2 separate regions of the Homo sapiens genome follow, and region 2 is linked to region 1. The links come from fine-mapping of genetic effects on gene expression. Tissue or cell type: Th17 cells. Region 1 holds a variant in brackets; the other region holds the start of a gene. All regions are shown on one strand. Distances are from middle to middle.

What was found. PIP is the estimated chance that this variant, and not a neighbour inherited with it, causes the effect.
Region 2: it holds the start of ACSF2, and the variant in region 1 is fine-mapped to the expression of ACSF2 in Th17 cells (Schmiedel 2018, PIP 0.95).

What each region holds. Positions count from the first base shown.
Region 1 is chr17:50,452,818-50,455,317 of GRCh38, forward strand. The region is part of intron 1 of ACSF2 (acyl-CoA synthetase family member 2); the gene reads left to right. Among named protein-coding and RNA genes, the nearest start is that of CHAD, 15 kb to the right of the region's middle. The variant AT/A (reference allele first, on the strand shown) is at 1,352.
Region 2 is chr17:50,425,154-50,427,653 of GRCh38, forward strand. ACSF2 (acyl-CoA synthetase family member 2) reads left to right here and starts at 1,065. Exons shown (of 16, transcript NM_025149.6): 1 at 1,065-1,236. The coding sequence starts at 1,109. RefSeq lists an enhancer at 597-1,141 and a silencer at 878-1,197.

The sequences.
Region 1 (2,500 bases):
GCACATTGCATTGATATGAGTTTGTAGAACTCTTTTAATTCCTTGGAAGAGCCACCTGTTTCCAACTCAACCCTGCCCTACCCTGGTCCCAGTTTCTTGGGATCAGTTAGTAGAAATTGTGGAATAATAAAATTGAGGTTATATTATCTCTGATGATCAGATAGGAGATAAATTCCAAACCAGAAGGAACAGGAATCACCTATGCCCTCTCCTTTCTCCCAGATCTGAGGGTGGGGCATGGGCAGGCATGGCTGTAACGTTGAGGCAGTTGCACCGGGTCCTCTGCTCCTGGCTCGGGTGTTCATCCGCCACGTGATCCACTTGATCTCTTTGTACTTCAGCTTCTTTACCTGTGGAATGGGAGTTCATGATACTCACCTGCATTTTTTTAAACATTTTTTTAAAATTTGGGACGGAGTTTCACTCTGTGGGCCAGGCTGGAGTGCAGTGACACAATCTCGGCTCACTGCAACCTCTACCTCTTGGATTCAAGCTTCTCCTGCCTTGGCTTCCTGAGTAGCTGGGATTACAGGCACACACCACCACACCCAGCTAATTTTTTGTATTTTTAGTAGAGACGGGGTTGCACCATGTTGGCCAGGCTGGTCTCAAACTCCTGACCTCAGATGATCCACCCACCTCAGCCTCCCAAAATGTTGGGGTTACAGGCGTGAGCCACCGCGCTCGGCCTCACCTGCATTTTTCTAGGATTATATTAGTGTGTCTCAAAGAAACCCAAACTGAGAGTGACTGAAAGAAGATGGGGGCAAGGGAATGGTTGTGTGTCTTGACTATTATCAATATCAATATCCTGGCTATAATATTGTACTATAGTTTTGCAAGATGTTAACATTGGGAAAATTTGAATATTGATGCTGAAGAATGCATGAGCTATTTCTGTATTGTTTCTTTTTTGTAGTTTTTTGTGGTTGTTGTTTTGGGTTTGTGTGTGTGTGTGTGTGCTGTTGTTGTTGTTGTTGTTGTTGTTTCTGAGACAGGCTCTTGCTCTGTTGCCCAGGCTGGAGTGCAGTGGGTGTAATCAACCTTGAACTACTAGGCTCAAGAGATCTTCCTGCCTCAGCGTCCCAAGTAGCTAGGAGTACAGGTGCATGCTACTATGCCTAGCTAATTTAAAAAAAAAAAAATTGCCAGCCTGGGCAACATGGCAAAACCCCATCTCTACAAAACATACAAAAAAATAGCCAACCATGGGGTCATACACTTGTAGTCCCAGCTACACAGGAGGCTGAGGTGGGAGAATCACATGAGCCCGGGAGGTCCAGGCTGCAGTCAGTGAGCCATGACTACACCACTGCACTCAAGCCTGAGCGACAGAGTAAGACCGTCCCAA[AT/A]TTTTTTTTTTTTTTTTTTTTTTTTAGAGACAGGGTCTTGCTCTGTCACCCAGGCTGGTCTCAAACTCCTGGGCTTGAGCAATTCCCCTGCCTTGGCCTTCCAAAGTGCTGGGATTACAGGCATGAGCCACCGTACCTGGCCTGAATATCATTTCTTACATCTGCATATCAATCTACAAATATCCCAAAATAAATAATTTAATTTTCAAAAGCAAAAAAAAGAAAAAAGAAAGGAGATGGGAGTTTCTTTATCTGGGAGACAGCCAGTCTGTGACTGGTGTGGTAGCTCCTGCTGTCCAGGCGTCAGGCTCCTCTCTTGTTGCTCTGTGGTGCCCCAAATCACTATGTGGTCCAAAATGCTACCATTCTTTTCCCGTCACAAGCAGCATTCCAGCCTGAGGAAGAAAAAAAAGAGAAGATGTCCCTTCCTCTGAAAGTTTCTTCTCTGAAGTTGCACACACTATCTCTCTTTAAACCCCACTGGCCAGGACCTCACCATCTGGCCAGATCGGCTGCCGGGGAAGCTTGGAAACCTGGTCTTTATTCCACACAACGTGGCCAGCTAGATGTCTGAGGGTGTGTCATGAGAGAAGAAGGACCTATTGGGGTTTCTGTCACACCACCTGTCAGAGCCGCTGTGAAGACACAGGAGAAAACACATATGCCAATTGAACTGGATTTTTTTTTTTCCCCCATAAATCAGCCTGCCGATTTCCCAATTAGAATTTCCAGGAGACCACTGTTTGGTCTGAAAACCATGGTGAATAATGGAAAACCAAGTTCCAAACTAAATGGGACTCCTGGTCATTGTGAGAATAGGAGGATGCTTGTTGTGAGGCTGAACACCTGCCGTCCGGCTGGAGTGTGCAGTGGCACCATCTTGGCTCACTGCAACCTCCGCCTCCCGGATTCAAGAGATTTTCCTGCCTCAGCCTCCCGGGTAGCTGGGACTACAGGCGTGCACCACCACGCCTGTTTTATTTTTGTATTTTTAGTAGAGATGGGGTTTCACCATGTTGGCCTGGCTGGTCTCAAACTCCTGACCTCAGGTGATCCACCCACCTCGGCCTCCCAAAGTGCTGGGATTACAGGTGTGATTCATCATTCCTGGCCAGTTCCCAGACTTTATAGGTGGGGAAGGTGAGCTT
Region 2 (2,500 bases), 28 kb before region 1:
CACTCTCAGCCACCCCTTCTGCCTGGCAGGGTTTACTTCATCTCCTCCAGTCAGGAGAGGGGAGGTCACACTGCCAGGGCCTTTGCCCCATTCTTCTCCAGCTCCTTCTCTAGAGGAAGAGTCATGGCTAGGCCGAGGCAGTGTGGACCTGGAACAGGTATAAACTGTGCTACTCTTTGGTGCCCAGTGCCACTTTTCCTAGCCAGGACCAGAGCTATCACCTTCTCTGTCCCGCAGCTCTGCCCAGGTCTTAGTACCCCACTCACCCCTGGGCCTCAGGAACCCTAAGGAGGGGCATAGGGTTGCTTTCCATTCACACCTGGGGCAGCACAGGGAACTGTGCCACAGGCCCCAAGACAGGCAGATGGAGGATGAAATACACAGGTCCCAGTCCCTGAGGCCACCTTACGTGTCCGGCCCCCAACCCTGTGCAGAAGGTCAAGGCAGAGGCGCCGAGGAGGGATGGGAGGATGCCTCCTGTGAGATGGGGTACAACTGGTGTTCCTTCTGAAGCTGACATCTGGCCTCAGCTGGGACTCTGGCGCCAGCGGGCCCGCAGGGGGCTCACCCGCGACACCCTTTGTTCTGGCTGCCTCCCCAACCCCGCGGGGCCCTCTGCTCCAGCTGGCATGCCTCAAGGACGCTTCGCGCCTGCTCCTTTGGCCCCCGGCTCGCAAGTAGCGGGGCCAGCACGTGACCCGAGGGGGCAGGGGATGGATGGATCTTGACCTTGCCATCTGGCCCCTCACGGATGTGCTGCTGGCTCTCCCTCTAGGAAATCAACAAATTTTTGCGCTTCTAACATCCAGGCCCCTGAGGATGGTCGCGAGGAAGATCTGTTTCGGACTGCAGCTGGGGCCTTCGGATCCAGAGGAAACCAGGGCTATTCTTCGAGGGTGGGAGGGGGAGGGCCGCGGGGTCGGAGGGGAAGGTGGCCCCGCGCGAAGTCGCCGCCGCCGCGCCCCGCCCCGCCCCGCCGGCGGAGACCGAATCCGCCGCACCCCATAGGCAGAGGCCACCCTCCCCGCCTCCCCGCCCGCTGCGCGCCCGCCCCGCCCCGGCTCACTTTAAAAGTTTACTCGGGCCGGGACGCAGGGCAAAGCGAGCCATGGCTGTCTACGTCGGGATGCTGCGCCTGGGGAGGCTGTGCGCCGGGAGCTCGGGGGTGCTGGGGGCCCGGGCCGCCCTCTCTCGGAGTTGGCAGGAAGCCAGGTTGCAGGGTGTCCGCTTCCTCAGGTACTGGCCCCCCGCGGGAAGAGAGGGGGCGGGGCAGTTCCCCGGGAGAGGAACTTGGAGGTCCCGGCGAGCTTCGGAAGCCCCACCTCTGGACGAGTGCACTGGGGGGAAGGTACCCGCCCCTCCCCCGCCCCCCGCCAGCACCTAGGCAATAGGAAAAGCTGGCTTGGCCTGGTGGACTTGGGTGGGGAGGGGGCTTTGGTTGGTGGCTGCAGTGACTTCGAGTTCTGGTCCAAGACTCTCGATTCCTTCTCCTTTATGGGCACAGAGGGCAAGGAGTGTGGGCTTTAAGGAGAATATTCCGATGGGGAGGGGCAAGGGCCAAGGCCTGGGCTGTACCCCCAGGACACTGCCTCTGAGTTGGAACCCCTTCATGGGCAAACTTGGGGATCAGCCCCAGTCTCCCCGACCCAGGCCACTAAACTTAGCAGTCTCCTGTCTCCTCATCAGCTGCTCACTAACATGGCTTTAATTCTTTGCTGCCTACTCCTGGGCCTATTTCCTTCTGTCCTCAGTGCAAGGGGTGGGATGGAAGCTGGCAGGCAGAGGATTTCAGTTCCCAGTAGCTTCACTGCCTCTGCAGCAGCACAGTAAGTAAAGCTGCCTTCCCGGTGTGACCAGTCCTTGGGAGGACCCCGTGAGATGGCAAATGTGAAAGTGCTTGAGACACAGAGAGCAGGCTGCCACTCATGTTATCAGGGCTGTTAGCTTCAGCAGCACCACTGGGGAGCCCTGTGCACTACTGAGCCTGTCCTACCACTCAACTCGGCCAGATACTAAGTCTATGGTCAGGACAGCACTTTCAGCAACATCAGATGGGGTGTGGGCCTGGACATGGAAAAGGGAGAAGTCAGAACAAAGCTGTGTCTCAGAGAACTAGATTTGTTTTTGTTTTTAAAAAGGCTAAGTAGGAAGAGTTGGAGGGACATGCAGACTCCTTTTTGGCTAGAACTCCAAGATCACACTTTCTGAACTTGCTGATTTCTGAATGCTAGAAAGCATGCAATGCCTTAACATCACTCTGCCTAATTTGCTGAGAAAACTAAGTGGATCAAGGCTGGTCAGTAGATGGGATTGAGATGAGGACAGTGGGGTCCTCTTCCCAGTGACCCTGGGAAGTCACTCACTACTTCCCAGGGTCTCCCTAGACAAGTTCGGCCCTCCCCTGACCCCCTAGTCTCTTAAGCCTCTCCTCTGGACTCATGGCTGCCCCCTCAGGCTGGGAGGACTCTGAGGAAAGTTACTTCCCAAAGTGTACATATTT